4 linked regions of the Homo sapiens genome follow. The protein of the gene in region 3 purifies or fractionates together with the protein of the main gene of each other region. This does not show direct contact. Each region holds a gene or a part of one and is shown on either strand. Other genes may lie near its edges. The genes, in order: TMEM11, DUSP14, MAS1 and PKP3.

Region 1 (7,020 bases), on a different chromosome or scaffold from region 3:
TCTTGTCCAAAATTCAGCACACTGGCAACGAGCACATCAAACAGATTGCCACTTGTCCTGTCGGCGTCTTTGAGACACACTTGCCCATCTAGGAAAGCACAGTGCAGGTATCTGTGTTCTGCCACCGTGTGCCAGCCCGGACCAGCTCACAGACAGCCCTGCCTGTCTTACTTGGGCTGCTCGGCTTCACTGTCTCAGGGCCCCTGAACCTCCCAGAGCCCTCCGTGATTGTTGGAATGTGAGTATAGCTGTGTGCTCTTGAGTTCCTGTTTTTATAATCACGTGAAGATGTACTTGATCTGCTTCTGAGCATGATATGAGGCAACCTGGGGTGTGCAGAGGGCCAGATGCACGGGGCTAAAAGTTCAGGTTTAGCGCGAAGTTATTTGTTGTGGCCTGCCCCTCCCCTGGCTTGCGCGGCCATCTGCTCCAGCGTTTTATAGGCAGCCAGTTCCCTGGGCTGACTTTCATGGCTTTCCTTGCCATGCTTTATTCCCCAGGACCTGTCCTCTTCTTTGTGAACTCAGGTGTGCCTGGTCCCAGGTGGCCCTTACACGTTCATCCAGTGAGCAGATGGAGCACAGGCCCCGGGGGCAGGTTGGGTCATGGTCCCGGGGTGACAGCTTCCCTTTCTGATCTGATCCTTCCCTTTTAGACTCTCAGGCTTTGGGAGTATTTAATCTCTCTTGAAAGACTCCATGCTTGCTTTTGTGTGTGGCGGGAGTTTTTGTTTCCTTCTGGCTGGGATGAGATGAGCAGATACGGGATCTGCACCCAAGTGTGTGGGGGTTTAGCCACTGGTTGTGGGATTCTGCTCAGCTCTTTAACAAAGGCAAAGCCACATGTTCTGGCCGCAGAAGTTGGATTCGTAGGTAAGGATGGGGTTCATCCTCTTCAGTATTGATGTGCCTTCAAGTTTTCAAGAATTTCTGTTTTCCTTGGTTCACTCAAGCAGCCTGGATTCCAAGTGCATTAATTTGTGTCTCAGTGGTTCAGTCCTTTAGGTCATGTTCCAGGGAAGGCTCCCCTTTCTGAAGAGGGGAGGGCTGCGCCTGGGTCCACGGAGGTGGGGAGGTGGCTCCTCTGCCCCGGCTTGTCGGTGTGCACCTGTTCTTCAATGAGCGAGGTGCGGGGGGTGGAGTTGGGCAGCACTCCATGACCGAGCACACCCGGGAACCTCCTGACTGCCACGGTGTTCCGCCCTGGTGCCAGCAGCCACTTTATGGGCACAGTTCTCAGGAAAAGCTGACAGCCATGTAGTAGTCATAACAGTTCTTCAGAGCAGGGCTGTCCAGTAGGAGTTTCTGGCATGACAGACTCCTGGCGTGTCCCTGCAGTCCATTAGGGCAGCCATTAGCCACGTGTGGCTCTGAGGAACTGAGGTTTCATTTATTTATTTATTTTATGAGACAGGTCTGGCTCTGTCACCCAGGCTGGAGTGCAGTGGTATGATCTCGGATCTCTGCAACCTCCGTCTCCCTGGCTCAAACCATTCTCCCACCCCAGCCTCCCGAGTAGCTGGGACCACAGGCATGTACCACCACGCCCAGCTCATTTTTGTATTTTTTGTAGAGGCAGAGTTTTCACCATGTTGTCTAGGCTGGTCTTAAAATTTGTGGGCTCAAGGAATCCACCCGCCCTGGCCTCCCAAAGTGCTGGGATTACAGGCGTGAGCCACTGTGCCCGGCCAGGAACTGAATTTTTTAAGATGTCTAATTTTAATTAATTTAAATTTCAACAGCCACATGTGTCTTAGGCAGAGGGGCAGTGCTTGGCGACTGTTCCCATCTTCACTGCAGTCCTCTGGGAGAGCCAGGGCCTCTGGCCCCGTTTGACAACATGGGAAACTGGCTCAGAGGGGCCGGGTGTTTTGCCCTAGGACACAAAGCCAGTAGGCAGCCGAGAGGGAACTTGAATCCACCCTCTCGACTCCCACACTTGGTGCGCCGTGTTCCTGCTCCCCAGATAGAAGGGCTGCTGAGTTACCAGTGCGCAGAATAGGAAAGTGTCCTCTGAAGCAGACGAAAGGGCTGGGTGTCCTGTGAAAGTTCCTTGGCCTGTGGGAGCCGTCCTCAGGCCATGGGGCCGCATGCCCGTGCCTTTGAGTCTGGGGCACGGGCTTTCACTGCTTCAGTCCTCTGCTTTCTGTGGGTCCCAAAGAAGCAGGGCTTAATTAGGCAGAAGCGGGTGGAGGTCCAGCCCAGCACCTCCTGTATCATAGGTGATCAAGTGACCCTTTCACTAAGTGAAAAGCAGCCTGACGGATGGGTTGACTTTTCTGGTACCAGTTCTCTTAATAACCATAATTGTTTTTCTCCTCCTGTGACTCCTGTGGCTCATGTCTGTAATCATTACAAATGTCCCTCCAACCTGTGTCTTTTGGGAACCTGTTACATTCAGGCCCAGTGCTGGGGAAACTACGATGAAAATGCAGCCTCTGCCCTCATGGAGCTTCAGGCCTGCCTGTGAGCCCGGGCCCCACTCCAAGAAGGGGCCTAATGTGGATGCTTCCACTCAGATTTGCCTCTGCTGGGTCTCTCAGAACTGGGAAGGTGATTGGTGGCTGGCCTGGCAGCTTAGCCAGTGTTTGCTCAAGGGAAACGGAGCTGGAACTGCCCTCCTCTTTTTGGGCAGGACTACAGGTACACACCAGCATGACACCTCAGCCATGAGAAGCTGCCCGCGTCCAGACTTCTGCCTTTCATGGACACCGAGAAGGTTCTGGAGCAGGAAGTGAGCCACCTCCCGCTCTTCTTGGCAGTGGAAGGAGGCCCTCCCACGGGTATCTGGTCCCTTTACCTCAAGGGATATAGGGTTGAACAGAATTTTTCTTTTTAAGAATAAGTTTATAATTATTTTTCCTGTTATAAAAGAAACACTTTGGCCGGGCGCAGTGGCTCATGCCTGTAATCCCAACACTTTGGGAGGCCGAGGTGGGCGGATCACGAGGTCAGGAGATTGAGACCATCCTCGCTAACACAGTGAAACCCCGTCTCTACTAAAAATACAAAAAATTAGCCGGGCGTGGTGGCGATTGCCTGTAGTCCCAGCTACTCTGGAGGCTGAGGCAGGAGAATGGCGTGAACCCAGGAGGCGGAGCTTGCAGTGAGCCAAGATCACGCCACTGCACTTGAGCCTGGGCGACAGAGCGAGACTCCGTCTCAAAAAAAAAAAAAAGAAACACTTTTTTTTAAAAAATATAGAAAAGCATGAAGAAATTGACAAGTCACCTATTAGGCCACCATCCAAAGAAAACCACTGTTGATCTATTTTCTTGTTTCTTTTGAGACAATGTCTCGCTCTTGTCCCCCTGGCTGGAGTGCAGTGGTGTGATCTTGGCTCACTGCAACCTCTACCTCCTAGGTTCAAGCGATTCTCCTGCCTCAGCCTCCTGAGTAGCTGGGATTACAGGCGCCTGTCACCACACCTGGCTAATTTTTGTATTTTTAGTAGAGACGGGGTTTCACCATGTTGGCCAGGCTGGTCTGAAACTCCTGACCTTAGGTAATCCGCCCGCCTCGGCCTCCCAAAGTGCTGGGATTACAGGCGTGAGCCACCGCGCCTAGCCTGATCTATTTTCATGTATAGCACCTTTGATACTTTGTCTTATATATCTTGCCTTAGGGGTTTTTAAAATTATATTATTGAGACGGACTCTCACTTTGTCACCCAGGCTGGAATGCAGTGGTGCAGTCTCGGTTTACTGCAGCTTCTGCCTCCGGGGTTCAAGCGATTCTCCTGCCTCAGTCTCAAGTAGCTGGGACCACAGGCATGCACCACCACGCCCAGCTAATTTTTGTATTTTTAGTAGGGACACAGTTTCACCACATTGGCCAGCCTGGTCTTGAAGTCCTGACCTCAGGTGATCTGCCCACCTCAGCCTCCCAAAGTGCTGGGATTACAGGCGTGAGCCACCATGCCCAGCCTTATCTTAGATTTTTTAAAGTTATATGTTAAACACATCAAAAGTTATGTTTACAATATGTGAAAAGTAATAAACATGCCACAGCATGATGGCCCTTAAAAACATAATGCAAAATGAAAGAAGCCAGTTGTTGAAGACCACGTTACAGGATTCCATTTAAATGAAATACCCAGAATTGGCATATCCAGAGAGTTGGGAAGCCGACTGGTGGTTGTGGAGGGCTGGGGAGATGTGAAGGGACCACTAATTGGTACAGGGTTTCTTTCTGAGATGATGAAAATGCACCAGGATCAGTTGTGCTATTGGTTGCACAACTTTGGGAAAGCCACTTCATCGTTCACCTCCGATGGGGGAGTTGCTCTGTGAATTCTATCTCAGTAAAGCTGTGAATTCTATCTCAGTAAAGCTGCCATTAAAAAATACAAATCAGGCCAGGCATGGTGGCTCATGCCTGTAATTCCAGCATTTTGGGATCACCTGAGATCAGGAGTTCGAGACTAGCCTGGCCAACATAGAGAAACTCTGTCTCTACTAAAAATACAAAGTTAGCTGGGCGTTGTGGCACGTGCCTGTAATCCCAGCTGCTTGGGAGGCTGAGGCAAGAGAATTGCTTGAACCCAGGAGGTGGAGGTTGCAGTGCTCCGAGATTGTGCCACTGCACTGCAGTCTGGGTGACAAGAGTGAAACTCCGTCTCCACAAAATAAATAAACAAATAAAAATAAAGAAAATGAGACCAGGTACAATGGCTCTTACTTGTAATCCCAGTGCTTTGGGAAGCTGAGGCTGGCAGATCACTTAGGAGTTCGAGACCAGCCTGGCCACCATGGTGAAAACCCTGTCTCTACTAAAAATACAAAAATTAGCTGGGCGTGGCAGCACATGTCTGTAGTCCTAGCTATTTGGGAGGCTGAGGCAGGAGACTCGCTTAAGCCCGGGAGGCGGAGGTTGCAGTGAGTCGAGATAGCGCCATTGCGCTCCAGCCTGGGCAATGGAGCGAGACTGCCTCAAAAGAAAAGAAAACGGAAAATAACAAGTGTTGGTGAGGATATGGAGAAATGGGAACCCCTGTGCGCTGCTGGTGGGAATGTACAATGGTGCAGCTGCTCTGGAAAACAGTATAGAGATTCCTCAAAAAAACTAAAAAATTGAACTGCTATATGATCCAGCAGTTCCACTTCTGGGTATATATACCCCCCCCCCAAAAAAAGCAGGGACTCAAAGAGATGTTTGTGCACCCATGTTCATAGCAGCATTATTCACAATAGCCAGTGGTGGAAACCGAAGTGTCCATCACAGATGAATGGATTAACAAAATGTGGTTTATGCATACGGTGGAACATTACTGAGCCTTAAAAAGGAAGAAAATTCGGATACATGCTACAATATGGATGAACCTTGAAGACTCGTTATGCTCTGTGGAATAAGCCAGACACAAAAGGGCATATACTATATATGATCCAACTTGTATGAAGTACTTGTATAGTCAGATTCATTGGGGTAGAAAGTAGAATGGTAGTTTGCAGGGGCTTGGGGTTGGTGGGGAATGGGGGGATCATTTCATGGGTAGAGTTTCAGTTTGGGAAGGTAAAGGAATCCTGGAGGTGGATGGTGGTGATGGTTGGTACATCAGTGTGCATGTGCTTAGTGCCTCTGAACTGTACACTTAAAAGTGCTTACGGTGGTATATTTTACGTGTATTTTACCACACTTTAAAAAAGGCAAAGTGATAGTTGTGTGGGCTCCCCACCCAGCGCGATAGAGAACTAGCGTTACCCTGGCCTGCCTCCTCCTGCAGCGGAGACCCTGTGCCCCAAGTGCACCACAGCACCCTTGCTGTCCTTATAGTTGGCTTTCAGTGGCACGTCCCTGAGCTCTGCCGCCTTAGAATGTGTGAGAGTTGTATCCCTGGCTCAGGCCACTGGAACTGATTCATGTCACTAATGGAGGAGGTGCGATTCTGCTCTCCCCGCTCCTGTCATCTTTTGCTCTCACCGAACAGTTCTGCTCTGAACCTTCTTGTGCGGCTCTTGCCTTTTGGGGAGACGCCTCCAGACTGTGGCTGCTGGGACAGGCACAGGCTGCCCACATCCCAGAGGGGCCGTGGAGTTGCCCTGCTGAGTTTTCACTGTGGCCGCCTTTTAACTGGAATGCTAGTGTTGCCAGGGGATTCCTTTGCTGACTGCGAGAGCTGATTGAGTTGGGCTCAAAAGTGGAGAGATGAGGGCCTGAAGGCTGACTCTGGTTGAAGGCTGAGGGAGGAAGTTCAAGATGCCCACTTTATGAGTGCCTGCAAGCTATCCTGAGGCGGCAGAGAGCGGTCCCATTCAGTGTCTGCAGCAGTCCCCCTGAGGTGCTGGAACGGGCTGACCCCTGCTCCCAGCACTAAAGGCTCAGAGAATCCAAAGCTTCCTCAGTGCTGGCATGATGTGTTTAGGATCATGACACTGATCCTTTTACTTTTCTTCTTCCATATGTTAAGACCCACTTCCGACAGTGATCTTTAAGTACCAGAGATCATGCCAGATTCAAAAGGATCAAAAGTCATTTACTAGAAAGAGCCTCCCTTCCTTTTCTTTCCTGAGCCCCTCAGTTCCCTCCCTAGTGACCAGTCATAAAAATCAGGTCTTTGTGTATCCTTTCAGAAGTGTTCTGTGCATATAAAAGCAAATAGAGACTTTTAAAAATACACTACGTATAGCATACTGTAAACACTCTTCTGAACCCTGCCTTTTCCCCTGAACTTGCTTTCAGTTGGAGACTTTGCTGTTACTGCTGCTACCTTTTTCTCTTTTTTTTTTTTTTTTTTTTTTTTATTGAGACGGAGTTTTACTTGTTGCCCACGCTGGAGTGCAATGGCATGATCTCAGCTCACTGCAACCTCCGCCTCCTGCGTTCAAGCAATTCTTCTGCCTCAGGCTCCCAAGTAGCTGGGATTACAGGCACGTGCCACCAAACCCAGCTAATTTTTGTATTTGTAGCAGAGACAGGGTTTCACCGTGTTAGCCAGGCTGGTCTCGAACTCCTGATCTCAGGTGATCCGCCTGCCTTGGCCTCCCAAAGTGCTGGGATTACAGGCATGAGCCACTGCACCTGG
Region 2 (7,690 bases), on a different chromosome or scaffold from region 3:
TGTGGTTGGTAATACCTACCTGACTGGGTTGATGAAGATTAAATGAGCCGGGTGTGGTGGCTTACGCCTGTAATCCCAGCACTTTGGGAGTCCAAGGCGGGTGAATCGCCTGAGCTCAGGAGTTTGTTTGTTTTTTTGTTTTTTTGTTATTGAGACGGAGTCTTGCTCTGTCGCCCAGGCTGGAGTGCAGTGGCGCGATGTCTGCTCACTGCAAGCTCCGCCTCCCGGGTTAACGCCATTCTCCTACCTCAGCCTCCTGAATAGCTGGGACTACAGGCGCCCGCCACCACGCCCGGCTTTTTTTTTTTTTTTTTTTGTATTTTTAGTAGAGACGGGGTTTCATGTTAGCCAGGATGGTCTCAATATCCTGACCTCGTGATCCGCCCGCCTCGGCCTCCCAAAGTGCTGGGATTACAGGCGTAAGCCACCGCGCCCGGCCTGAGCTCAGGAGTTTGAGACCACCCTGGGCAACATGGTGAAACCCTGTCTCTACTAAAATACAAAAAATTAGCTGGGCTTGGTGGCGCACGCCTGTGGTCCTAGCTACTCGCACCACAGCACTCCAACTTGGGCTACAGAGTGAGACTCTGTCTCAAAAAAACAAAACAAAAACAACAAAAGATTAAATGTGTTAAGGTATATAACACACCTGGTGCCTCCCTTCCTTTTCTTTTCCCACTGAGCCTTTGACATTTAGTTTCACTGCGGTCAGGTATGAGCAAGTACATGATTTTCCTGTACCACCCAATTCACATCATGCAAAAGTCTCACAGAGAGGGACATGAAGATCTGCAAGAACAAATGTTAAAACAGACAGATGTGCATTTTACAAGGATGTTGTTTATCTTGAAATTCTCATCACTGCATCATTGCTACTGCCCAAGGGTTGAATTAAGGGCAAAACATTTCAGAGACAGATTTGAAATTACCTAATTATCCTAGACATGTTGTAATGTTCCCTTTTATAATGCCTGGCTCAAAAAGCTTGATGTCAGGTTACAGAACTGTATGCATTCTTTGATTGTAATTGTGTTAACAATAGTAAAAAATCTTGCATACAATCAAGACCAGAAAGAAATCCAGATGCTAATTGTTGTTTTGTTAAGTAATAAAATGGTGGTAAGCAATGCTTTTTCTCTTTTTGCTTTTTTTTCTTTTTCTTATCTGTAATGTGACAATTCTTTATTACTTGGAAAGTACATTTTATGAGAACTGTGAAAACTCGGAAAGTAGAAGTTCAAAGTATTTTACATTTAATAACATCTAGCTAATCCTTATGATATCTAGATAAGGTGCTACTTTACATCTTATGAAATAGCACAAGCCTTAGGCAAACTTCTGTAGTAGAAGAAATGTGTTCTGAGACTTCTGAGACTTCTATCTTGCTAGTTTTTAAGATATCTTTTCTCCCAGAAACCTGGTGTCCAGTGTCCCTCTCAAATCTGCCAAAGGACAGTAGCTTAAAGATTTACTTATCTCAGGGGAGTTGCATTTTTATAGCCATCAATGGCATATAATTTGGAATTAGAGGCACAGGCAAGCAGGCCTTCCGAATCTCTGTGAGCCACAAGACCCGATGGCACCCTGAAATCAAACTTCTGTAGACTGGGAGCCTTGTTGACCGCTGTTCCCCAATTCTGACAGATCAAAGCTGTTGCTAATTTGTTAACCAGAGGCAGTGATACAAATGGAAGATGCAACTATTCATTCTGAGGGACGCATAAAAGTCTGATTAATCTAAGGAGCAGTCATTGCCCAAGCAGTTAAGGAGAATATTTTTGGAAAGGCAGACATCAGAAGCTAAGCAGAGTACAAATTTCCACCCTCTACTTACTGTATTAATCATATCAGCTCTCACTCTTCGTAGATGCTGCCCTGCTCGAAAGCACTGGTTATTTAGCTGGGAGTCAGGAGAACCCAAACCCTCCCTGGGCATAGACAAATTGTAATTTTATAGCAGACAGCCTCTAAAATGTTTCTACATCCACAACAGTTGACACTGCCAGGCGCAGTGGCTCATGCCTCTAATCCCAGCACTATGGGAGGCTGAGGTGGGAGGATTGTTTGAGCTTAGGAGTTCGAGACCAGGCTGGGCAACATATTATTTAAAGAGACTAGGTCTCTTTAGTAATAACAAGGCCAGGTGCGGTGGCTCACGTCTATAACCTCAGGGGGCATCACCTGAGGTCGGGAGTTCAAGACCAGCCTGACCAACGTAGAGAAACCCTGTCTCTACTAAAAACACAAAATTAGCCAGGCGTGGTGGTGCGTGCCTGTAATCCCAGCTACTCGGGAGGCTGAGGCAGGAGAATCACTTGAACCCGGGAGGCGGAGGTTGCGCTGGGCCGAGATCGTGCCATTGCACTCCAGCCCAGGCAACAAGAGCGAAACTCCGTCCCCCCCAAAATAATAAAAACTAATTAGCCAGGCGTGGTGGCGTGCCTGTAGTCCCAGCTACTTGGGAAGCTGAAGTGGGAGGACCACCTGAGCCCGGGAAGTGGAGGCTTCAGTGAGCCATGATTGCACCACTGCACTCCATCCTGAAGCCTATCTTAAAAAAAAAAGAAGAAAAAGTGACACCTATAAAAAAACTCACATACTTATAGTCCAGAAATGTGCTGTCCAGTAAGGTAGCCACTAGCCACATGTGGCTATCTAAATTTACTAAAATAAAATTTTAAATTCACTTCCTTAGTTACACTAGCCATATTTCGTGTTCAGTAGCAACATGAGGCTAGTGGCTACTGTACTGGAGAGTGGAGATACAGAACATGTCCATCATCACACAAAGTTCTACTGGACAGTGCTGGTCCAGAAGAGAATAACTTCAAATTGCATTTTTGGTACAGGCATGTATAAGCCCGCACTTCCACATTCTGTAAAGGCATAAACCGCCTCCCTACCCCAGGGCATGTCTGTACAGTCATTAAATGGTCTGACTCCAGCACTTCTTTCTACTTAATCTCTAAATCTCTAAATCTTGACACGCACATCGCACACAACACAAACTCTATTTTAGCCCACCTCCCTCTTCACTGACTCTTCATGGTAGGTTTAGTTCCCATAATCCATGAAAATGCCTAGCTCCTTGTCACTAGAGCTTGTTTTGGAAACCTGCCTACAGTGTAACAAGCTGGAATGTGAAGAGGGATGCATCTATTTGTGTTGCTGAGTCATTGAATTGACTGAAGCTTCAAGGACTAGGGGGTGCTGAGCAGAAATGAAAACACACAATCCTTTCTGTTAGAGATTTGCTCTTTTCGTATTGGCATGTAAACAAGTAAGTCACTAAGTGAACTGACGTCACAATTTAGTTTTAGGAAGATGCTTTTCCCAGGCACGATTTGAACTCAGTGGTTTCCTGAATCTAGCAAAGTATGCTGCTTTGTTTTCTCTTAGATTAATTTTGCCTAATTTTAAAGCTTTGATTCTCTTTTTACGAAGACGAAAATAAATCTCTCTAGTCTGGGCCTTTTTCGTTTCCCAGGATTATGATTAAAATTATCACTAACTTTTAGATAGTCCAGCACGCACCGGATGACTCTGAAGCCGGTTGGGCAGTGGAGATCGGGAAGAACATGAAAAAGCTTCAAAGCTTTTGGTTGAGGACATCGGGAGATGTAAACCCCAAACGCGGGTTTTACTTCTCCCCTCCACCCCTCCCCGCAAACCCATGCCTACTCGTTTTGACTGCTCAGCAATTCTGAGGCCAACCATTTGCAACGGCGAGGAGCAGGGGCTGGTGAGTCAAGGACTGGGCATGGAGTCAGGACTCTTAGGTGCCTTGACTCACGGCAGAGCCTTGAGGAAGTCGCTTTGCCTCCCACGTGTCTCCCTTCACCTGCCAGAGGCGGAGGGGAGGCGGGGCTGTGCTGGAAAACGTCCGTTTCGCACCGACTTATGTTACAGATGGGCAGACCTGAATTTTAAAAGACCCTCAGAGTCACACAGCAAATGAGCCCTCAAATGCCCGTGTCCCGCCTGCGCTCCGGAGAACCCCTGCCCTGCCTCGGGGACTCGGGAGGTGGGTGTGGGCTCCGAGACTCGGACGGCACCTTGGCGTGGCGAGAGCAGGTGGAGATGCGCACGGAGGTTGCATGTTCACCTCCGGGTCTCGGGCGCCACGGCTGCCCGTACCTGTTCCAGCAAGCGTCAGCCAGGAACTGCCGCGCTACTGATTTTCCCTTCGCTCTTGGGTCCCAACCCCCGGGCTCTCCGGGCTAGGGAGGCGGTGGGGTGGGGTCGAGGCCGTCCCGAGCCACCCGCGGCGGCTTCACACCTGTATCGGATTTGCTTTCTCGCCTTTAATCCTCTCCAATCCCGAAAGCACCCCAGCAGAGCGCCCCCGCAGCCCGCCTCGAGCCCGGCTCATACGCAGACGCTGACTGGGGAAGCGAGGGGTCGCCGGTGTGTGAGGCAGGGTAAGAGACCAGGGGACCTGCACGGAGGAGCGCTCTAGGGGAGGCTGCTGCCTCGGGAGCTAGGGCGCGCCCGGACCACACCGCACGGCGCAGAAGCCCAGCGCGCACGCGCGCCGCCTGCCGCCCCGCGCGTCCCCCCGCCCCGCGTCGCGTCCCCCCACCTCGGGAGAGGGCGGCCAGGCGCAGGGAGCGTGCGCGCGGCCCGCCCCGGGCGCGGGCGGAGGGAGGAGGAGGCGGCGCGCGCGGCGCCCAGCCCGCAGAAGCCGGTGGCCGCGCAGGAGGACGGAGCCCTAACCGCAACCCGCTCCGCGCCGCGCCGCGCCGGTAGGGGACCCGCAGGCCCGGGGGTGGGGGTTGTGGGGAAGGTGTTGGGGTGGGGCGGGAGGGCGGGACTTCGCGCTTCGGGTCCCTGGGCGCAGGGGGACCCAGAGGCCCGCGCGACCCCGCCTCTGGAAACTTTGTGCCGGCGCCCCCACCTGCTCCCTGGCGGTCCTTGACTCTTCGGGGCGGCCCGCGGAGGAGAGGCCCGAGACCTTCCGCAGCGCACCCTCGCCGGCCCTGAGCGTGCGCCCCCTGCCGCTCCCCCGCCGCGCCGCGCCGCCCCCGCGACCCTGTCCCTGTGCCCCGGGGCTCCAGCAGCCTCGGCCGCGCCTCCTCCGTCGCCTTCCGACCCCGCTGAGGCCGCCTACTCTCGCTGGCATCCACCCGCTCTGGAGCGCGCCGCCGCTTTTTGCATCTCCCCGAGGTTTCTGGTGCATGGATAGAAGCAACTTGACTTTCAGCGATGCCAAGTGTCCAACTTGAGTCTTTCTCTGCGGTGGTAGATGGGTGTGCGCGGTGCTAACATCTGTCTTTTTATTTCTCCTAAGTACCCTTGCTCCGGAGCGAAGTTGAGTTGTTGTTTGTAAAGAGGGGGTGCGTGCTGTGGCCGCCTTAAGTGGATTGTATAACTGTATTTTATTTAGGTGGATGTTGCCAGTGGTACCAGCCAGTGTTATGGTAACTGGGCATCCCAGAGGCTAGGGAAGGAGGAGCGACTTACAAATGCAGTTTTACCATGCAGAGATTTTTTTTTTTTAAAACCACCTTGTACTTTCTATCCAGCAGGACCTCCGGACATTTAGTGTGTGTTAACTCGTTAGCTGTTCATTATCGTTTTATAAGAGAGGGGGGTGGAGAGCGTTACCATCCCGTTTTACAGATGTAAAAACGGAGGCGAAGAGCAAACTCCGGGTATCCTTAGTAACCTTAAAAGAATAGGGACCAAGAGATTTAACCCAGAGTCTCCTGGAATTCCTAGTCCCTAAGGCCACTCAGAAGTATGATGGAATGTTGGACCGTCCTCCCTGACATTCTACAGATCACTTAAGAGTCAGAGAGGCCGAGGCCAGCCGGCAGCTCCATGCCTGAGACTCAGCTCTGCCACAAAGTTAAGTAACACTGGACAAGTCACAGTTTCTCTCCGCTCATTTCCTTCCTGCTCTCTAAAACCAGGGGAACAAAGGTGCTGTATTCTTTGCAGAGTTGTGCGTGTGTCTGGAAGCTCCACTCCCTTGAGCTGCGATTTGGTTATTGTTAGTTGTTGTGGACTCATAAAGGCCCCCAGTCTTGGTTCCCTTGAGAAATGCAGGGAAGGAGGCACCCCCACAGTGAACGCCTCTTCTTCGCCAGAGACGCCTGAGAATTCACATCAGGGACACTTCACATCAGGGACAGGCCGGGGCAGAGACCCTGACCTGAGGGAGGGACGAGGGTTGCCACGAGGAGGTAGGAAGGAGCCCTGCACAGGAGGCTTGACACATGGGCCCTATTCCTGCCTCCAGCTCTGACTCATCTTCTGACGCTTGGGGGAGGAGAGGTAGTTGCTTGGTATTTTTGGCTTTCCACCATAAAACTGGAGACAGTTTCCTTCATTCCAAGTCGTTTTAATGTCACTGTTGAACGTGTGTGTCCTGAGTTCTCATCTGAAAGCTTTCATATCGGTTGACTGCAGGTATGAATTCTGTAATAATAATTAATAGAATGGCATAAATGTATATTCATATCATAAAAGACTAGCCAAGTATGTAAGTCCAGGAAATCCTTTAATACTTTAACATTTTTAAAAAGTGGGCTTTAGGGAGGGCTATGTTTGATGGGTTCCTTTGCAATTGGGATTTTAAGGCAAAATGGATTAAAAATGCTTTTCCCAAAATCACAAGAAATACATTAACCATTCTCTGTGAGATTTAAACTTTACTAATAAGGTTAAAGCTTTCTTTTGAACCTCTTCCTCAAAAGTAACTGCCGAGTGCATCTTGATCGGTTTGTGTATATCTTTTTAGACTTTTCTAAGCATTTTTATAAATGTCCGTTTGCACAAAGTGGTTTTTTAACCGAAATTAATTATTTTAAAGTTGACTTGTCCTGTTTATAAAGATTTGGCTTCTGTCAAGAACAAGTAATGTGTTTAAGTACAACTGTTGGTAAAGTTTTAATAATCCTGATAGACGGTGTTACTTCCCAGGGCAAGGGGCAAATTACCCCTTTTAAACAACTTCAAAGTAGTAGAATCATTACGATCCTAGGTTTTACTCTTAGGTGCTGAATAAAACTTTCCTATTTAAAAAAAAAATCTAGGACTACTAGCCTATTGTCTTGTCTTTGCTTATAAAGAAACGTCAAAGGGAGTGGAAGACAGGGAGAGTTGCTAAAGCAACCAAGGCCTGGGTATAAACTTACAGAGCTAACATTTAAGATGGCTTTATTATTTATGAAAGCTTCACTTCACCTGGGTGAAGACAAAGGAAAGTGTTAATGTGGGCACCCTTCAAACCGGTAATTTCAGGAAATGGATGGGTTAAAACAAAATTCATGTCAGGATTCTGTGGATTTATATATTATACATTTACCGAGGACTTTTACCATGCTAAAGGTGCTGTGCCTGAATACAGAGGAAGAAGGCAAGTAAGGTCGGTCTCTGACCTTATGAAGCTGACAGGCAAATAGTGACATTCAGAGAGAGTTGGCCAGAATTGTTGTCATGGTTCTGAATTCCCAGAAATCAACATTAGATTTATTGAATTGTGAATTATGTAAAAAAGTGTCTAAAACAAATGGATAATTTGATGGATTATTTTAACGAAAACATAAGTGTAACTGTCTTGCAGGTCAAGAATCTGACTCCACACTCTCTCCCTCCCCCAGAGGTCCTAGCCAGAAACTACCCTGACTTTTATGGAAATCATTTCCTTCTTTTCTATAGTTTTTATCCCCTAAATATAAATCCC
Region 3 (7,787 bases):
GTGAGTGCCGTGAATGTCATGAAGTCCCTTTTGCTGTGAATTTATTATGAGCACATACTTTTGAACATCTCCCACTCCACAATTATTTCCAAAGTTTTTCAAGAAAAAACTTTCTAGTATGGTGTTCTGGATTTAGAAAAAAGAGAAAAGTGAGATTAAAAAAAGAAGAGGAGAATGAAAATGAGTTTATACTTTACAGCTTTTACGTCCTAGGTATAGGTGGGGATGGTGCACTCTGGTGTCGCTCTCTCCTTGCTCTGACAAGGGAGATAGGGCAAGTTACTTAAACTCTGCAAGCCTCACTTTCCTCATCTGTAAAATGGGGATAAAATATTAAGCACTTAAGAAATGTCCTTGTGACTCCTGGGGGCAAAAAAAAAAAAAAAAAAAAAAAAAGGAATTTTGAGGACTTCCTGTATAGCTCTATTAACCCAGATGGTGCTGAACTGGAGGAGGGACGGACAGGAGTACACACACCTGAAGCGGAGATGAGCTCTCACGTCGGATCGAGCGAGTCATCCACGAAGTGCTCGTACATTTTCACCTGTGACTCAATGCGAACTTTCTCTAGGGATGTCCCTGTGAGCAAGATCATCCGTCCTGAGCAAAGGGCTCTGGCACTGGTTTTCCTCAGGGGCCCTTTTAACAAAGATTCCCAGGGAAAGAGGGGAGAGGAAGGGAGGAAAATTAGTTGGGGTAAAGGTATTTTCCCAAATCGTCAGAGCGTGTGAGCCTCTTCAGGCAGACCCCGATCTCCCCCCGGGGATGGAGTGTGCTCCTCTCCTCTTCCCTCCTTCCCCACCCTGCCCTGGCACCCGGTGCCACCCCTGCCTTCTCCCCATCTTTATTATGTTGGCCCGGGCTGCCTCACAGCATGCTCGGTTTATTTTCTAATTATTTTCTCCTGCTGCAAACTTTAGCCAGCCCTGTAGATATGATATCTGGTGATTCTGGGGGACTCAGAGAGGCATTTATTTATTTTCTTATTTATATGAGCTATATTAGTTGGGAGTTCTCCTTTTGGAACTAGTGAGGTCTAGTTTGTCCACTGCGATGATCTCTGGGGCAGCGGACACCATCCCAGGCTCTCCCGCAGGAGGGAAGCAGCTCCCTGAGCCTCGCCCCGCCCCTCAGTGGAAGAGCTATCCTGGATTAGGGATGCCCGACTCTGGTCACTTCACATCCTCCTCACTGCTCCGCAAAGGCACTTGTGCCAGATGAGAAGTCTCCTTTTGGGCAGATTCCTATGATTGAGGGGAGGCTGGGGGGGCCCTGGGGGCTGGAAGCAAAGCCTCCCACATGCTGAATTCTTATCTGCAGCTGTGCTCTGTTTGGGCCCTTCCCAGGGTGCATCTTGGAGGACTACTTGCACTGTGTCTGGTGGGTTTGCTTCCCCGTTTTCATAGCTATATAGTTTCTGCCCTTTGTAGTACTCTCACTATGCTCCCCCATGTGGACCTGACTAGCTGGAAGAAACCGAGCACGTCGGGGAGAAAATGTCATTTCTCTTTCAGATCTGATGTTTAAGAAATGTATGCTGAGCGTAAAGATTATTACTGGGGACAGACCCAACCAATTCCAGGGCAGGGTTGGCTAGCAGAAGCCTGGAGAAGATTCCCTGAGGCTGATGGGGATCCGATCAGCCTGGGAGAGTTCTGTTCTCAGGGTTTTATCTTGGGCTTTTATCTGGTCAATGAGGTCTGAAGCCTCTTTTGCAGCTCCAGAGGGCAGAGGGCAGACCAGTTCCACTCTGAGACTGTCAGTCAAACAGATGGGATAATCACTCGTCCCTCCGGTCAAGTTTGCAAGTCTAAATTTCTAGCATACCTGAAGTTGTTCTGCTCCTGAATGGTGAACCGAGACAATGTGTCCTAAGCCAGTTGCCTGCCATTCTGTGGACCTTCCGTGTGTTTCCACTTCTTATTCTGGAACCGTCTTCTGTGAAAGTGAGCACTCAGGCACTGACCGTTCCCTCCGTCGGTGCAGCCCAGCCCCCTGCCCTCCTGACTCTCCATCTTTCTAACACGGAGGGGAGTGCTGGGCTTTTGTGAGGCACTTAATGGTTATCTCCCCAGAATATAGGCTCAGCGTCGAGGGCGTAGAAGAGTTCCTTCCAGATAAGGAGCACATCTTAGGATGTGACTTGAATTCTCTAGACTTCCTTGGGTTTAGCGCTGAGTGAAGAGGCACGGAGAGGGTTTGGAGCTTTAGGGTAAAGCACTGATGGAAGAAAGGAATTCTGCCACTTACTGGGGTGCCTACGGGCTCTCCCACTTATGGTCTACGTAGGGATTCTACCACTGTACCCTACTTAAACGGACCTACCACTTGTGCGTACTGCCACTTATGGGTCTGCTGCGTGGCCGTGGGTAAATAAGCTTCCTTCTTCCCTGCTCCCATAAGGCCCTCCACCAGGCCCCCTTCATTATGGTTCTCTGTTGTTTGATGGCAGAAAGAGGGATGTTGTTTCTCTAGGGAACTTTGGAAGGTGTGACTTGGAGGTGGATGCTAGAACTTCCGCCGGAAATTGGAGCTCCAGACCCTCCTCTTCCCCAGGTTCAGTTGCTTTGTTACCCGCTCTTGCTACACCTCCTTCCCCTCAAACTCTGCCCACCTCTGAAGGGGAGAATGATTACTCACAAAGACAAACCAAGCACAGAAATAGCCAACCTATTTGTGGCTTAAATGCAAGCAGTTTTATTTTTACAGTGAGTTGCTGTATTTTCTCTAAGGATAAATCATTATCTACCAAAAATGCGACTCCAGCTCCATCTGTGATAGTTCCTGCTTTGTTAGTGGTGCCAATTAGTCACAAAACAACTGGGGCCTTCCGCCACCCACTCAAGCTGGGGGCAAAGAGAGCCACCTCTTTCTGACTCTCCCGGCCGGCCACCAACCCCTTTGGAGACTCTCTCCCTACCTAGAAGCCATCGGGCCACCCTGGCTTCCTGGCGGCTTGCTCTTCATTCACCTTGGGACCATTATCAATTTCCAAATTGGGCAGCTTGTTGTCCTCTGCCCGTGTGGACAGACTTCTGTTAGGCACTGGAAAAAGCAAATTGGTGAGGACCTCTGTTCTGTTGACTTACATAATGACGTTGGAGTCCTCCTTCTAGTTGGTCACTCTGCGCAGGGTTTCACAGCACCCATGGGGACAGGGTGAAATGTTCATAACATCTGGGCAGCCCCTGATCTGAGAAGCAGCGAATGTGGAGCAGAGAGGATCCCTCTGTCGTATCCCATCTCCTTCATCCCTCATTTCCTTCGGGATCAATTCCTCCCCTGCTGGGATTGGAAGCTTCCTGGGCAGCCTCTTATTTTTCCCTAATCATGTTTTCTTCCGTGGGTCTGATCCTTTCCCACCCGTGCTCCTTCTTTTCTGCCTTGCAGTCTGCTTTAGATGGTGCCTGTTTCCTTTTTAGTTTCTGACCATCCTCTGGGAAACTAAAGTTCTTCAGGAGGCTGAACTTCTCCTTCCTTGGAGCATCAGAACCAGGTAATGAGAACACCTTTCCAACTTCAAGACCGAGTTCACCTGGTCTGTTGATTTGCTGCTCAGCACTGCCTACCCAGTAGATGCCTGCTGGCTTCAGGGGAAGCTCTCTTCTCTCCCCTTTCTTCTTCCCACTGGGAGGGCCGAGCTGCTGGTCAGGCTTCCCACAAGAGTAGTTTGGCTCTGCCCTGGGACTATGGTCTTCCTGCTTACGAAAACAGTCGGAGGGGAACTTCATCTGTGGGTTCCTATGTCTGCTTTCCCACAGAGTCTGAAACTGCCTTCTTACCCCTTTTGATATAGTTGGTCCCCGAGGTTCTTAATACTTTGGCACAATATCTATGAAGGAATCCCTTTAAACAAGAGAAAATGCTACCCTGAGTGAGGGGTGGGTCTTCAGGCTTGGGATCTCAGACTTGGCTACCTGAGATCCAAGAGATCCAGAATTCTCAGCCTTTGGGGCTTCACATTGAGTTATTTGAAAAATGGGTAACATATTGGCCATTTTTGGTTTTTAAAAGGTAGAAAAACAAAAAACCTAACCAAACAACAACAACAACAAAAACACAAAAAATGCAGAACAGGGATCGGGGAAAAGGAATTTGCTCTCATGTTCCTGACTGCACGGGTGAGAGTTGGCATCTAACAGAAACAGCTACTCCCAGGAGGAGCCCCCGGACCAGGCTGGGACGCAGTCTGGGCATGGCCAATGGTGCAGACCCCTGCCTTCACCCCTGAACACACTCCTTGGCTTGCTTGCTTTTCATAGCATCCTACGGGTCTTATATACTACACTGAGCATGATACTCTCCGAAACTGGGTTGGAGAAGGGAACAAATCCTTAACTATCTAGCCATGTGTCTCCCGTATGTCTCTCTGGGTCTATACATAGACTCATCTCATCATTACTAGGTTTTGAGTTAATATTATTAGCTCCATTTTACAGATGAGAAAACCAAGTCTTAGAGAGCTTGGCAGAGGTCACATAACTTATTAGAAACTGAGCTGGGAATTTGAGATGGTTCTGTCTTTCTACTACACATGCGGTTTTGCCCTTCCATGTGGCATTTCTCCACGTCATCTTTCTCTTTAGCCCTGGCTGGCCTTAGTGGTTCAAGGTGATCCACTGCCTTGCATTATCACCAGCTCACACCCCGCTCTGGATTGGCGTGAAGATTTTCACTTGAGTGTGTCACTGAATGATGCCATTGGAAGCTTCTGCTGATAAGCGTGGGACCATCTGCTTGGCACATCTCAAATATTTTCAGCAGTGGGAGAGCAGCTCTGATTCCTTCAGAGATGAGAGGCTGCAGCCATCCTTCGAGATGTTGGGACCGGAGACCCTGCAGGCTGGCTGGGCATTGATGCCCCAGATGTGAAGGGGCAGCCAACCTGTTGGCCACGTCTGACCCTTCCTGAGCAAATGACACCAGTGAGTCTGCGTCCCAGTTTTTCATTGCTTAGCTGTCCTTGACAACCAGAGTAAGATTTTCTCTCTTTAAAAAGCTATTTCTTGGATAACTCTTTTCTGTGCTGGTTTTTCTTTCTTTTATTTTTTTCGGTGTGTTAGATGTTTGCCGTTGGTGTGTGTTGGCAAAAACTTCTCTTTCCTCCTGCCTTTGTTTTGGAAAATTTACTTCTTTGCTGAGTTAACTGTTCCCAGACATTGTTTTTCAACTTCAGGGTTGAAACTTCGCAGTAGCGTTTTCTTTTTTAACTCGTTGCAGGGGAAAGAATCTTAGGATCAATTCACAGTTTGAATGGTGGACTTGGAGGTTTTCAAGGCTGCTTAATGAAAGCTTATGAATGATAAAGAAGTTGAGGTTTGAAAGAGTTGTTACTGAATTTGATTCCTCTGGAGAAATCACTTGGCTATCAGCTCTTTGGCATCACAGGGGCAAGCTGTATTGATTTTTCTTCATTTTTCCTTAGTGGGCACTGGCATCAGTATTAGCTTCTGTTGCTTATGAAGCCGTATGCATTCCTTTGGTGACAAGATGTCTGTTAAAAGGAATCTCCTGCCCAGTCTTGATCTTTGGTATGAGCGTCTTAGCAACACTTCCCAGCCAGGATACTTAGGAGTAATTTGGTGAGAGAATGTATAGTGTGTTGTTAGATTGCTATGGGTGCAGCAGTAAAAAGGTGGTAAGAAGCTGGCCTCTAGCAGAGTGCCACGGCCTCGGCACTACTGGCATTTTGGGCTGGGTAATTCTTTGCCGTGTGGGCTGTCTTGTATATTATAGGATGTTTAGCAGCATCTCTGGCCTCTACCAACTAGATACCAGTAGCACACTCCTCTCCATTGTGACAACCAAAAATATCTTCAGGCATGCCAAACATCCCTTAGGGGACAAAATCACCTTCCCCCCTTTTAGACCAGGGCTCTAAATTGATCCTGTGGTATGTTTGGAAAGGGAGCAAGAAGTCTCTGCTTCTGCGTACAGATGGCCCTAGTGTGGGGAAGACGGGAATGATGCATTTAATACCAGGACAGATGGTCCTGCCCTGTACATTCCCATCGGAGCCCTTGCCTGCCATGGAAATTCCATCTCACAAATGGGTTTCTGTTTGTCCAGGTGACTGCACACACACACAGGGAAGAATTTGCCCTTTTCTCTGGATCTGCACACCTAGAAATCCAGCCTAGGGTCAGGCTGTCTTTTAAGTTGCCTGGGAACAACAGGCGCTTTCAGATGGCCCACTCCCCCAGCCTGAGTTTTATTGGCTTTTCTCTCTTTCCTTTTTTCTCCCTGCCTTTCTCCCCAGCCCCCTCTTTCTTTCTTCTAAGAGTGATGTCCTAGGCTGGGTATCTGGGGCCATGGAAGGACTGTGCTCAACTGAATGGGAATGTGGAAGGGGTTGTTTGCTTCTGAGGTCTCTAGAGAACACTTGAGCAGCATAAATGTATGGCATTTAGAACTCTCTGCTGACTCTGAGTCTCCTTGTTTTTTCTATCAGCTCCACCACCCATCTGTTCCTCTCACTTTCATTGAGAGGTAATTGCAGCCAGCAATCTCAGGTGGACCTGGCAGGACACAGGCTCTGCAAAGCCCACATCCTTACACATCAATGGAAACCACCATGCTTGTTTTCCCTGCTTGTTGATTCATTATCTCAGTTTGGCATTTCCATGAGACTCATATTGGCAAAGTGCTGTTCAATCTCTAGCATTTCTTATACCCCAGCCTTTCAAACTACATTAAAATGCCAGCATGTGAAGCAGTTGAGACCCAGTGGGGTTAATCTGCTTGATGGAGGACTTGCCTCTCATGGTCAGTTTGACTGAAAGTGCAGCTCCCAGGCCAAGCAGCCGTAGGCACAAGCAGAATAGGCTGTGGCCTCTGCACTGTACTTTGATCAATGTCAAAACCCCTCTTCTCAAAAGTCTCTTCTGCATTCAGATGCGATACTGCCCACAATTCTTTGAGTTTTGCAGGAAGGTGGTGGGTGTTAAGTCCTACTTTCCACCATGGTCACCCTGGCTTATGGTGTCTTGTGTGAGGTGCTGGAGCCTGAATAGGCAAGGATCATCCCCATGGGGGCAGCCACGCCGGGGTGAGGGCAGTGGCAGTGGTGACATGGCAGGGGATGTCAGTGCTGGGCAGGGCAGGATATCTGCATGGGGGGTACAGGGAACTGGTGCTGGGTGTTGGAGCTCCTGCAGTGTGAGGTCTGTGTCTCAGGGTAGGGGGCAGGGGGAGCACTGGTCCAACAGGAAGTAAAAGGGCCCAACAAAGTGAGGAGGGCATCTGTGCAGGGGCAGGGGAAGAGCAGTGGCAGACATAGGCAACCATTCATAGGTGGGTTGATCAAATGAGTAAATGCATAGAGGGCCAAGGGAGCCAGGTTTCTCAGAGAAGGGAGTTACAAATATGGAGAGGGAGAAAACTCAAATGAATTCACTGGTGGTGGGTCAAAACTGGAGATATTGGTGTCAATTTATGATTATATGTATATATTTTATAAAGATATAAAAAGACATAGAAATACAGCCATAGGTGTGTGTATGTATGACTATACATAAATGTTATCTATGTACATATATTCCTTAGCCCTGCCACTGAGAGGGGCTGGGAGCAGCGACAGCCTCCATGCAATGAGCACATTTTACACCCAGATCTTGGCTTCTAAATATAATTATTTACTGAAAGGAACCAGGGCTCCTTGGAGAAATGGCTGATTCTAGGCACTAGGGCAGGGGACATACAAGATTATGGTAAAGTGTCCAGTTTTTTGTGTTGGAAGGCTATTAGGCATATTGGAGGAAGTGTGGACCAGCGGGGAAGGTTGGATT
Region 4 (7,020 bases), on a different chromosome or scaffold from region 3:
AGGCCACTGAGGTTTCCCCGAGCCGGACCATCCGTGCCCCTGCCGTGCGGACCCTGCAGCGATTCCAGAGCAGCCACCGGAGCCGCGGGGTAGGCGGGGCAGTGCCGGGGGCCGTCCTGGAGCCAGTGGCTCGAGCGCCATCTGTGCGCAGCCTCAGCCTCAGCCTGGCTGACTCGGGCCACCTGCCGGACGTGCATGGGTTCAACAGCTACGGTAGCCACCGAACCCTGCAGAGACTCAGCAGCGGGTGAGCGGCTGGGCCCGGCTCAGGGAGGGGGCTTCTACCACGGGCCCAGCCTGAACCCAAAGTTAGCCTGACCCCTGACCCCTGGCTCCGCAGTTTTGATGACATTGACCTGCCCTCAGCAGTCAAGTACCTCATGGCTTCAGACCCCAACCTGCAGGTGCTGGGAGCGGCCTACATCCAGCACAAGTGCTACAGCGATGCAGCCGCCAAGAAGCAGGTGACCACCCCGACCACCCACTCGCTGCCCCCTGGTGACCTCCTTCGTGGGCCCCACCACCTCCCACTGTCCTCTGCTCACTGAGCACCCCTCATGATCCCCAAGCTGACTGGGTAGACCCCACTCTGTCTGGAGCCCCCTCAGCAGAGGAAGAGCAGAAGGATACAATTTGGATACACCAGTATCACCTGCATCACCTCCGTACCCCCACATATACCTCATCACCTCCGTACACCCGCACACACCTGCGTCACCTCCGTACCCCCACATATACCTCATCACCTCCATACCCCCGCACACACCTCCGTCACCTCCGTACCCCCGCACACACCTGCATCACCTCCATACCCCCACACACACCTGCGTCACCTCCGTACCCCCGCACACACCTGCGTCACCTCCGTACCCCCGCACACACCTCCGTCACCTCCGTACCCCCGCACACACCTGTGTCACCTCCCTACCCCCACATATACCTCATCACCTCCGTACACCCGCACATACCTGCGTCACCTCCCTACCCCCACATATACCTCATCACCTCCGTACCCCCGCACACACCTGCGTCACCTCCCTACCCCCACATATACCTCATCACCTCCGTACACCCGCACACACCTGCGTCACCTCCCTACCCCCGCACACACCTGCGTCACCTCCGTACCCCTGCACACACCTCCGTCACCTCCGTACCCCCGCACACACCTGCGTCACCTCCCTACCCCCGCACACACCTGCGTCACCTCCGTACCCCCGCACACACCTGCGTCACCTCCCTACCCCCGCACACACCTGCGTCACCTCCGTACCCCCGCACACACCTCTGTCACCTCCCTACCCCCGCACACACCTGCATCACCTCCGTACCCCCGCACACACCTGCGTCACCTCCGTACCCCCGCACACACCTGCGTCACCTCCCTACCCCCGCACACACCTGCGTCACCTCCCTACCCCCGCACACACCTGCGTCACCTCCCTACCCCCGCACACACCTGCGTCACCTCCCTACCCCCGCACACACCTGCGTCACCTCCGTACCCCCGCACACACCTGCGTCACCTCCCTACCCCCGCACACACCTGCGTCACCTCCGTACCCCCGCACACACCTCCGTCACCTCCGTACCCCCGCACACACCTGCGTCACCTCCGTACCCCCGCACACACCTCCGTCACCTCCCTACCGCCGCACACACCTCCGTCACCTCCCTATACGGCTGCATCCCCTGCATATCTACATCTACGCACCTGGACACAGCTGCACACAGGTGCATAGTCTGCATCCATCCACATGCGTCTGTGCACCCCCATATGCCTGTGCCCGCAGGCCCGCAGCCTTCAGGCCGTGCCTAGGCTGGTGAAGCTCTTCAACCACGCCAACCAGGAAGTGCAGCGCCATGCCACAGGTGCCATGCGCAACCTCATCTACGACAACGCTGACAACAAGCTGGCCCTGGTGGAGGAGAACGGGATCTTCGAGCTGCTGCGGACACTGCGGGAGCAGGATGATGAGCTTCGCAAAAATGTCACAGGTGCTGCCTGTCCCCTCCTCCACCTGTCCTTCCTCCACCTGCGCCCCTCTGCCTATCCCCCCTGCCTTCCTCCCCACCTGCCCCCCTCCACCTGCCCACCATCTGCCCCCCTTCTCCACCTGCCCCCTCTGCCACCTGCCCCCCTACTCCTCCTCCCCCCCTCTGCCTTACCCCCCCACCTGCCCGCCATCTGCCCCACTCCTCCACCTGCCCCCTCCTCCACCTGCCCCCTCTGCCTGTCCCCTACTCCTCCTGTCCTCCCTCTGTGTCCCCCCCACCTGGCCCCCCTCCTCCACCTGCCCCCTCTGCCTATCCCCCACCTGTCCCCCCCTCCACCTGTCCCCCTTTTCTGCCTGTCCCCCTCCTCCTGTCCCTCCTCTGCCTGTCCTCTCTCCTCCGTTCTGACCCCTCCACCTCATTCGGTTCCCCTCCGTCCCTTTGTACCTTTTGCCGGCCGTGTTTCTACTTGGGCCTCCACTGCCCGCCTCTTTCCTGGACCCCCGGCCACCCTGTCCTGTGGTTTTGTCTCCTTGGAGCCGCCTGCACTGCCAGGCCTGCTCACCACCCCACCCCCACATCTTGTCCCCTCTTGCTTGGTCCCAGCTCTATCACCTCAAATGCCACCCCAGGGTCTCCCCAGTGGGGCTCGTGGGTGAGGCACAGAACACCAGGCCAGCCCCTGGGGAGAGGCGGGACCTCTTCACACCATCCCCAGAAACGCGGAGGGGGTTGGAGGGCAGACGCTGATAGCAGCCTCCCCCGTCCTCCAGGGATCCTGTGGAACCTTTCATCCAGCGACCACCTGAAGGACCGCCTGGCCAGAGACACGCTGGAGCAGCTCACAGACCTGGTGTTGAGCCCCCTGTCGGGGGCTGGGGGTCCCCCCCTCATCCAGCAGAACGCCTCGGAGGCAGAGATCTTCTACAACGCCACCGGCTTCCTCAGGTGCGCCAGCCTCGGGCAGCGGGGTGGGGATTGCAGGCGCGGGTCACTGTGGGGACTCCGCCTGGCCTGGCGTTCGCAGCCCACACACCGCACGCCTCGCGCTGGGGATGGGCGTGCGAGGGCCCACGATGGGTTGGGGCAAGGCCCGGGATGCGGGGTCCCTGGGGGGCTCTGATCCACCTCGGTCCCCAGGAACCTCAGCTCAGCCTCTCAGGCCACTCGCCAGAAGATGCGGGAGTGCCACGGGCTGGTGGACGCCCTGGTCACCTCTATCAACCACGCCCTGGACGCGGGCAAATGCGAGGACAAGGTGAGGGGCGCGGTGTGGAGGAGGGGCCGTGCCCCCGGGCCGCCGCTCTGACCCGCGCCCCTGCCCCGCGCCCCCGCCCGCAGAGCGTGGAGAACGCGGTGTGCGTCCTGCGGAACCTGTCCTACCGCCTCTACGACGAGATGCCGCCGTCCGCGCTGCAGCGGCTGGAGGGTCGCGGCCGCAGGGACCTGGCGGGGGCGCCGCCGGGAGAGGTCGTGGGCTGCTTCACGCCGCAGAGCCGGCGGCTGCGCGAGGTGGGCACCAGCCTGAGCGGGGCGTGGGGTGGGTGCTGCGACCCCGGCCCCGCTGACCCCGGCCCCGCTCACCCCCGCCCCGCTCACCCCCGCCCCGCTCACCCCGCCCCGCTCACCCCGGACCCCGCTCACCCCCGCCCCGCTCACCCCCGACCCCGCTCACACCCGCCCCGCTCACCCCCGCCCCGCTCACCCCCGCCCCGCTCACCCCGGACCCCGCTCACCCCCGCCCCGCTCACCCCCGGCCCCGCTCACACCCGCCCCGCTCACCCCCGCCCCGCTCACCCCGGACCCCGCTCACCCCGGACCCCGCTCACACCCGCCCCGCTCACACCCGGCCCCGCTCACCCCCGCCCCGCTCACCCCCGGCCCGCTCACACCCGGCCCCGCTCACACCCGGCCCCGCTCACACCCGCCCCGCTCACCCCCGGCCCCGCTCACACCTGCCCCGCTCACACCCGGCCCCGCTCACACCCGGCCCCGCTCACACCCGGCCCGCTCACACCCGCCCCGCTCACCCCCGGCCCCGCTCACACCCGGCCCCGTTCACACCCGCCCCGCTCACACCCGCCCCGCTCACCCCCGGCCCGCTCACACCCGCCCCGCTCACCCCCGGCCCGCTCACACCCGGCCCCGCTCACACCCGGCCCCGCTCACACCCGCCCCGCTCACCCCCGGCCCCGCTCACACCCGCCCCGCTCACACCCGGCCCCGCTCACACCCGGCCCGCTCACACCCGCCCCGCTCACACCCGCCCCGCTCACACCCGCCCCGCTCACCCCCGGCCCCGCTCACCCCCGGCCCCGTTCACACCCGCCCCGCTCACACCCGCCCCGCTCACCCCCGGCCCGCTCACCCCCGGCCCCGCTCACACCCGGCCCCGCTCACACCCGCCCCGCTCACACCCGGCCCCGCTCACACCCGGCCCCGCTCACACCCGGCCCCGCTCACACCCGCCCCGCTCACCCCCGCCCCGCTCACCCCCGGCCCCGCTCACCCCCGGCCCCGCTCACCCCCGACCCCGCTCACCCCCGACCCCGCTCACCCCCGCCCCGCTCACCCCCGCCCCGCTCACCCCCGACCCCCGGCCCCGCTCACCCCCGACCCCCGGCCCCGCTCACCCCCGGCTCCACTGACCCCGGCCCCGCTCACCCCGGACCCCGCTCACCCCCGACCCCCGGCCCCGCTCACCCCCGGCTCCACTGACCCCGGCCCCGCTCACCCCGGACCCCGCTCACCCCCGACCCCCGGCCCCGCTCACCCCCGACCCCCGGCCCCGCTCACCCCCGGCTCCACTGACCCCGGCCCCGCTCACCCCGGACCCCGCTCACCCCCGACCCCCGGCCCCGCTCACCCCCGGCTCCACTGACCCCGGCCCCGCTCACCCCGGACCCCGCTCACCCCCGACCCCCGGCCCCGCTCACCCCCGGCTCCACTGACCCCGGCCCCGCTCACCCCGACCCCGCTCACCCCAGACCCCCGGCCCCGCTCACCCCCGGCTCCACTGACCCCGGCCCCGCTCACCCCGGACCCCGCTCACCCCCGACCCCCGGCCCCGCTCACCCCCGGCTCCACTGACCCCGGCCCCGCTCACCCCGGACCCCGCTCACCCCCGACCCCCGGCCCCGCTCACCCCCGACCCCCGGCCCCGCTCACCCCCGGCTCCACTGACCCCGGCCCCGCTCACCCCGGACCCCGCTCACCCCCGACCCCCGGCCCCGCTCACCCCCGGCTCCACTGACCCCGGCCCCGCTCACCCCGGACCCCGCTCACCCCCGACCCCCGGCCCCGCTCACCCCCGGCTCCACTGACCCCGGCCCCGCTCACCCCGACCCCGCTCACCCCCGACCCCCGGCCCCGCTCACCCCCGGCCCCGCTCACCCCGACCCCGCTCACCCCCGACCCCCGGCCCCGCTCACCCCCGACCCGCTCACCCCGACCCCGCTCACCCCCGACCCCCGGCCCCGCTCACCCCCGACCCGCTCACCCCGACCCCGCTCACCCCCGCCCCGCTCACCCCTGCCCCGCTCACCCCGGGCCCCGCTCACCCCCGGCCCCGCTCACCCCGACCCCGCTCACCCCCGACCCCCGGCCCCGCTCACCCCCGGCCCCGCTCACCCCCGCCCCGCTCACCCCCGCCCCGCTCACCCCGGGACCCGCTCACCCCGACCCCGCTCACCCCGGACCCCGCTCACCCCCGCCCCGCTCACCCCGGACCCCGCTCACCCCCGACCCCCGGCCCCGCTCACCCCCGCCCCGCTCACCCCGGACCCCGCTCACCCCCGCCCCACTCACACCCGACCCGCTCACCCCGACCCGCTCACCCCGACCCGCTCACCCCGACCCCGCCGACTCCTCCCCGCCCTGCGCAGCTGCCCCTCGCCGCCGATGCGCTCACCTTCGCGGAGGTGTCCAAGGACCCCAAGGGCCTCGAGTGGCTGTGGAGCCCCCAGATCGTGGGGCTGTACAACCGGCTGCTGCAGCGCTGCGAGCTCAACCGGCACACGACGGAGGCGGCCGCCGGGGCGCTGCAGAACATCACGGCAGGCGACCGCAGGGTGGGGCACCCAACCCAGACCCGAGGGGGTCCCAGGGGTTCATGCGGTTGAGGGGGGGACAGAGGAGGGAGAGGGAGGGGAGGAGGAAGGGGACGCCCAGGGTCCGCGGAGCCTCGGAGGTCAGCGTCCCGGTGGCGCAGGCCTTGGGCCTTGGGAGGATGGAAGTCCTGCCCTGGGTTTGAAGGGAGGCACCTGATCCGGGCTGCGGCTGATTCCCCCCGGCTGGGGGGCAAAGGCAGAAGCAGAGGCCCCCCTGAGGGTGGCGAGAGGATGCAGCGACCCCATTGTGGCAGGACCCCCTCAGGTGAGGGTCTGAGGCCTCCGGGTCACGGCTCACACCCTCCCTCCCCACAGTGGGCGGGGGTGCTGAGCCGCCTGGCCCTGGAGCAGGAGCGTATTCTGAACCCCCTGCTAGACCGTGTCAGGACCGCCGACCACCACCAGCTGCGCTCACTGACTGGCCTCATCCGAAACCTGTCTCGGAACGCTAGGAACAAGGACGAGATGTGTGAGTCGGGCAGCCCCTCGTCCCTGCCCTGCTGGACCCACATGTCAATTTTGTCTTTAAGTGTGGGCTTCAGACCACTGGGGCCAGTCCAGCTCCCTGGGGGAGGCAGGGGACCCCAGGTGCCCAGGTGGCCAGGAGTAGGGGTGCAGACTGACCCCCGGCCTCCCACAGCCACGAAGGTGGTGAGCCACCTGATCGAGAAGCTGCCGGGCAGCGTGGGTGAGAAGTCGCCCCCAGCCGAGGTGCTGGTCAACATCATAGCTGTGCTCAACAACCTGGTGGTGGCCAGCCCCATCGCTGCCCGAGACCTGCTGTATTTTGACGGACTCCGAAAGCTCATCTTCATCAAGAAGAAGCGGGACAGGTAGGGGCCGACCCAGCCGTGCAGCAGCCTGGTCAGGGGTCCTCCCAGTCCACCCTGCTTTCTGGCTGTGTGTCCCCTCCTGA

Evidence for each region.
Region 1: the proteins of MAS1 (region 3) and TMEM11 purify together in Homo sapiens (affinity purification with mass spectrometry; 2 studies listed by BioGRID and IntAct, with this or other methods). This does not show direct contact.
Region 2: the proteins of MAS1 (region 3) and DUSP14 purify together in Homo sapiens (affinity purification with mass spectrometry; 2 studies listed by BioGRID and IntAct, with this or other methods). This does not show direct contact.
Region 4: the proteins of MAS1 (region 3) and PKP3 purify together in Homo sapiens (affinity purification with mass spectrometry; 2 studies listed by BioGRID and IntAct, with this or other methods). This does not show direct contact.

The regions. Positions count from the first base shown.
Region 1 is NC_000017.11:21,204,154-21,211,173, reverse strand, and holds part of TMEM11 (transmembrane protein 11, mitochondrial), read left to right. Parts: exon of another isoform or gene 1-238; intron 239-7,020. UniProt on the Homo sapiens protein: Plays a role in mitochondrial morphogenesis.
Region 2 is NC_000017.11:37,485,214-37,492,903, forward strand, and holds the start of DUSP14 (dual specificity protein phosphatase 14), read left to right. Parts: upstream 1-4,677; 5' UTR 4,678-4,745; intron 4,746-6,319; exon of another isoform or gene 6,320-6,414; intron 6,415-7,690. UniProt on the Homo sapiens protein: Involved in the inactivation of MAP kinases. Dephosphorylates ERK, JNK and p38 MAP-kinases. Plays a negative role in TCR signaling by dephosphorylating MAP3K7 adapter TAB1 leading to its inactivation.
Region 3 is NC_000006.12:159,886,209-159,893,995, forward strand, and holds the start of MAS1 (proto-oncogene Mas), read left to right. Parts: upstream 1-4,779; 5' UTR 4,780-4,925; exon of another isoform or gene 4,926-4,975; intron 4,976-7,787. UniProt on the Homo sapiens protein: Receptor for angiotensin 1-7. Acts specifically as a functional antagonist of AGTR1 (angiotensin-2 type 1 receptor), although it up-regulates AGTR1 receptor levels.
Region 4 is NC_000011.10:397,199-404,218, forward strand, and holds part of PKP3 (plakophilin-3), read left to right. Parts: coding exon 1-247; intron 248-340; coding exon 341-464; intron 465-1,793; coding exon 1,794-1,998; intron 1,999-2,768; coding exon 2,769-2,943; intron 2,944-3,135; coding exon 3,136-3,253; intron 3,254-3,336; coding exon 3,337-3,507; intron 3,508-5,879; coding exon 5,880-6,065; intron 6,066-6,419; coding exon 6,420-6,573; intron 6,574-6,744; coding exon 6,745-6,937; intron 6,938-7,020. UniProt on the Homo sapiens protein: A component of desmosome cell-cell junctions which are required for positive regulation of cellular adhesion. Required for the localization of DSG2, DSP and PKP2 to mature desmosome junctions.